Linked DNA regions of Homo sapiens: region 2 is linked to region 1. The links come from fine-mapping of genetic effects on gene expression. Tissue or cell type: testis. Region 1 holds a variant in brackets; the other region holds the start of a gene. All regions are shown on one strand. Distances are from middle to middle.

Region 1 (2,930 bases):
TCATCCCATGGGGTTGCTATTACATTATAGGAATTTTATCAAAAGGAAAAGAGTTTAGGAGCAAGAAGGCTCTAAAATGCCTTGAAAAAAAAGCAAAGTTCCTGGGTGGTGTTAACTTTCAGCTAAACCCAAGTAGTTATCATTTTTGGGAAACACTTATTTGAGCCAGACATCATTTTAGACATTTAGCATATGCTTTCATTTAAGTTTTACATTTATTTTGTATAGTAAGGGTATTGTCCCTATTTTATTAAAGAATCAGCTGGACAGAGAAAGTTAATGTTATTAAGGTCACATAACAAGCAGTTTGATTCAGGTCAAACTCCAAAGCTGGTTTTATTACTCTATGTATGCCTCTTAAAGCCTATTAAAAAAACCCACTCTAAATATATATATGTATATATATATATATATATGTATATATATATATATATATGTATATATATATAATATATATATATATTTCCTGAATATGAATAAACTTTCTATCATTTCTTAGAATGATTTTTAAAATGCTTGACTTTCCTGCTTTTTATTATTCAAACTCTACTTCCACAATAAGAAATGATGTGAAAACAAATATTCCTTAAAATGAGTTTACCTTACCCCTTCCAAATTGAATGAGTGGATGGGAACTTTTAGAAATTGTAAGTTATTTTTAATCTTTCACTTTACAAATACTAACTTATTCTTCATTCCAGTCGGTATTCTAATGTTGCTTATTGTATTAGTCCATTTTCATGCTACTGATAAAGACATACCTGAGACTGGGAAGGAAAAGAGGCTTAATGGAGTTACAGTTCCACATGGCTGGGGAGGCCTCACAATCACGGCAGAAGGCAAGGAGGAGTAAGTCACGTCTTATATGGATGGCGTCAGGCAAAGAGAGAGCTTGTACAGGGAAAGTCCCAGTTTTGAAACCATCAGATCTTGTGAGACTCATTCACTATCATGAGAACAGTGCAGGAAAGACGCACCCCATTAATTCAGTCACCTCCCCCTGGGTTCCTCCCATGATGTGGGAATTGTGGGAGTTACAATTCAAGGTGAGATTTTGGTGGGGACACAGCTAAACCATAAGACTTATGATCTTAATGATGTAGTTTATTTTAGATAGGATAGGCATGGCAGATACAACTTCTTAGTCTTCACATAAAGGCATTTCTACTTAATAGAATATGTAGGGAGTTCTGATAAGTACATTAGATGAATTATTTTTTAACCTCAAAAGAACTATATGAGAAAACAGCTATTTAATTTAAAATAATAGATAAGAAGAATGAGGTTCAAAATAACTATTTACTTGTTAAGCCTATGTAGAACTAGTATGTGGCAGAACTCAGATTTGAA[A/G]CCAGATCTACCTGGCCCTGAAACATGTGTGCTTTCTTTTACATCAATCCTAATAAATAATACTAACATTGACTATCACTGTGATTAATATCCAGACATGCTGATAATTACGGTATTACCTTGACATTTAGTGCTATGCAAGGAGTAATATAAATTTCACTCAGCAAATATTCACTGAGTGGCTGCTATGTGTCAAGCATCATGGTTGGCAATGTAAAGCAAAAACAAACATGGTTTCGGTCCTCCTAATATTGGTAATCTAGTCAGAAGATGTATCATTTCACATAATAGGACAATTGTGGTACATACTGTGAAGTAATATTGAGTGTATGATTATAAACTTGACCTAGCTCCTGGGTCAAGGAAGGCCATCATGAGGAAATCACAGGTTGAACTAAGAAGGTATCAAAATTTGCTGACATTCCTTTTGATCATCTGTGAGGTTGATGTTGCATTATAGAAATCTAACACAGGATGCGATTTGGAAAGATGGTGTCCAAGCAGAAAATGTTGTTATAGGCTATGTATAGAATGGAATCAGCTTGTTGATGCTATGCAGGTTCAGAGATGGGAGGAACTTTCCATGTTGGAGTGGAAGGGGAGAAGTCTCAGAAGGTAATGTGGGCTAGATCCTGCAGAGACCTGAGTGCATGTTAGATATATTCATCTGTATCTGATGGGTGCTGAGAATTCATTGAAAGGTTTTAATTTGAATATAATCTGTCATTCAAGTTGACTGAGCTTTCTTTTCAAGCTTCGGTATATGGGCAGCAGACACCAAGCAAGTAACCCATGTACTGGCTTTATGAGCTGAAAATTAATCTGTGCGTTTCAGTAACAAAATCTGTAGCTTTACTGGCTTCTCATAGTGTTTAATGACTCTGAAGCAGCTTATTGATGCTGTCAGGAAACTGATACATTTGTAAAAAGAAATGCATTACCCATGCTATAAAATTAAATGTTGCATTGCAAAGCAATATACTAAATATCTCTTTAGTCAATTTTTGTAAACTAAATGTTATAAAATTATATTAGAACAGAAAGACAGCATAAATCTGTGTGGAATATATGTCTTTAAGGCGATTATTTTGTTACTCTGTACTGATAGGTAGGTTTAATTACCTTTTTACTAAAGTGTGTATTTCACATGCCTGGGAAAATAAGTGCATTATTTTGCCCAATTTGTCCTTCTTGTTTACATACGTATATTTGGGGCTTTGAAGGCATATGTATTTTGGGAACTGCTTTTTTATATTTGCATAAAATCAAATACATAATTTTTATCTCTTTTTACACAAATATTAACAACCTGCCACTGTGTAGCCGGGATCCTGTTTAAGAACCTCTAAAATAAAGTGTGACTATTAATGCCTCAATTAACTTTTAATGCAAGAATTGGGACTGTCTCTAGAGCATGTTGAACCTATCCTTCATAATGGATAATGCTGAACATTTTCATAAAAAGAGGTCAAATAATTTCTTCTAATGCCCATGAAAATATCAGCTAGCATTTATTGAGCACCTACTATATGTGCCAGCTACTTTACATATTGTCTCAGTTAATTCTCTCAAACTCAGAG
Region 2 (2,930 bases), 48 kb before region 1:
CATTAGTTATTTTTCCTGATCCTCTCCCTCCTTCCCCTTTCCATCCTTTGAAAGGCTCCAGTGTGTTGTTCCCCTCTACATGTCCTGTTGCTTTAGTTTTATTTCTTTTATTATTTAGATGGACCTAAAATACCCTCAAATATTCCATTTGTACGACTAATTATGATCATAAACTTCATGTTGAGCTAGGCACTGTTCAAATTGCATATATTTAGCCCTCACAAAACTCTGTGAGGAAGATACTATTACCTACCTGCATTTACACAAGAGGAAACAGAGGCAGAGAGCGATTAAAGAATTTGCCCAAGGTCAAGTAGCTATTAATGAAAGAGCCAGGATTAAACCCAAGCAATCTGCTAATTTTTAACCTTTATGCAGTACTGCCTCAAAGGAAAAATCTGTTTATGAACACTGAGAAATTATTTTGTAATTTCAAGTCTCTACATACATGTAGTTTAAAGAACTAAACAGTTCTAGAAAGTTTTATAGGGAAGATTAATCCCTTGGAAACAGTTCCCTATTTCCTATCCCTAGAGGCAACCACTTTCAATGCTTTTAACAGATTCAATTGGTGTTTTCGTTCAGATCTTTAAATAGCACATTTCTTTGCTACTTTGTGATATTTTTAAGTTTTCATTTTTTTACACACCTCTCCACATATCTTCTCGTTAGGTTAGTATCGTTTATGTTATTACGATTGTGCGTGTGCTATTGATAATCTAATCATGGAATATACTTGATTTTCTTTCTTGCATAGCTCTTCGTTCCTCTTGTCATTAAGAATCATCTAATTTATTAATCTTATTATTTAGTTTACTATGGTATTATCATAATTAATCCTCAAACTCCCTCTAGTTGTATAAATACCCTCTAAGACATTAACTCTTTTATGTTCTGGAATAAATCTCCCCCACAGTTTGGTTGATTTCCAGGTTCACTGTGTAGTGAATGTCCTGGGAATATATCTGTACCATGACTCTGGGGTCCTTTTTGCCTCTCTGTCGGGTGAGAGCCCCGTTCCTATGTACTGTGCTTACTTTTCTTAGTTGACCGCTCTGGCTTGGTTCTCCATTAATTACCTGAGAAAGACTACATGGGAGATGAGGTTTTGAGAAATTTCTGCTCTGATAACTGTCTTATGAAGTGAGTTAATATTTACAAATTGCTAAGAAAACTATCTGGCACATGGCAAACAAAACATATACATTTTAAAAATAATTATACCTTCACTCTTGACTGGCAATTTGAAAAGGTATTGTATTTCTGTTTGTAAATCATTGTTCCTTCCTCAGGATTCTGAAAGCATTGTTCCATTGTATCCTAGGTTCCTGTATGGAATTTGAGAAGCCCAATGCTATTCTGACTTTTTATCTTTGGTTTTGAAATCCATTGTTTTAAATTTCATGATGATATTGGTATACATTTTCTTCATCCTGTTGGTCACTCAGTGGACTTTTTCAATCTAGATATTCATAACATTTAAGTCTGTAAATGTTCTGACATGATATCTTTGGTGACTTCTCCTGTACTCTTACTCCTTTTTCCTTGGTCTTCTCTTTCTTTTTCTAGCTTTCCTGTTATTTTGATGCTGGACTTTCTGATTTTTCAATTTTTATACTTGTCTTCTTATTTTACATATATTTGTCATTTTCTTCTAATATCTGGAGACTTCGTTCACTTTATCTTGTAACCCTTTTCATTTCTGTTGTCCTCTTTTATGTTTCAAGACTGCTTTTTCTCTTCCTGTGTTTTCTCATAGCATACTCTGTTTCATGAACATGGTGTCCTTTCACTCTTAGGACATTAATCATGGTGAGTAATCAAGGGATAGTGATAATGAAGTGTTCTGTTAATGGAGTTCTCACATCCTTCTTCTTGGGTTTGTCTACAAATTTGCTGTGGCTTTTGTCTTTTATGTTAGAAGCCTCCCTCAAATGTTTAACCCGGCTTTCCACTCATACTTAAGAGCTCTGCAATAAAACACTAATCGAAAGCTCTGTGCAACTGGAGATGTGATTGTTAATGATTAAATTCAATGTGGGGTAACGGCGAGCCATTCATTCTCTCAGGAAACACCTGATTGTCAATTTAAGTATTTTTAGTTTGTTTGTTTCCTTAGAAAATATTCTTCAAAATTCCTGCCCAGGCAATAAAAGCCATCTTTCAGCATTCTGATTGCCATATACACTTTCACTGATTTCCCGGTATTCAATATGGAATCTGCATTCAGTTGTGTGTGGTGTTCCATAGTGCAGAAAATAAATCTCCCATCTTTTTCTAGGCTGGTGGAGAGGCAGTCATCTAACTGGGCAGAATGGGAAGAGGAACCAGGTGTATACCTAGTTTTTAAGGAGACTTTCATCCTATATTTAGCTGCCATTGTCAGAAGTATCTGGTGGTGTTAATTCCTGAGCCTCTTAAATCCCATGGTGCAAAACAAATTGTTTCTTGGCTTTTCTCACTGAGTGTTTGAATTCAGCTTTTTCAGATCTGAGAAAGCAGTCATCACTCCTTCATCTGCTTCTAAGTTTTCAAAATTTTGTTGAGTTACAATTCTCACAGCCTTTATAGGTATATAATCCTTAAAAAATGGAAAAAAAGCTCTTAAATATATAACTTTAATGAAATTTCAAGAAGGAGCAGATGAAATTATGTGCATTTAGCCAACCATGTTTATTTGGAAACTTGTTTATAGAGAATTTTTTTGTTTTGCCTAATTACCAGCTTCTCTGTTAGATGTCTGAAAGTCTACAATGGGGTGTGTGTGTGTGTGTGTGTGTGTGTTTGTGTGTCTGTCTGTCTCATCCTTCCCTCCTTAGGAATAGGGGTGGGAGGGGGAATGTAGCACCTAGAGACATATAAAAGCACAGGAGAAGAAAAGCAGCATGATATAGGGAAAAAGAGCACAGGCTTAGGAGGAAGAGACCGAG

What was found. PIP is the estimated chance that this variant, and not a neighbour inherited with it, causes the effect.
Region 2: NELL1-AS1 starts here. The variant in region 1 is the best candidate, but not a certain one, in a credible set for the expression of NELL1-AS1 in testis (GTEx, PIP 0.70).

Annotation. Positions count from the first base shown.
Region 1 is chr11:21,308,864-21,311,793 of GRCh38, forward strand. The region is part of intron 14 of NELL1 (neural EGFL like 1); the gene reads left to right. Among named protein-coding and RNA genes, the nearest start is that of NELL1-AS1, 48 kb to the left of the region's middle. The variant A/G (reference allele first, on the strand shown) is at 1,351.
Region 2 is chr11:21,261,314-21,264,243 of GRCh38, forward strand. NELL1-AS1 (NELL1 antisense RNA 1) reads right to left here and starts at 1,254. Exons shown (of 2, transcript NR_199070.1): 1 at 1,225-1,254. The region is part of intron 14 of NELL1 (neural EGFL like 1); the gene reads left to right.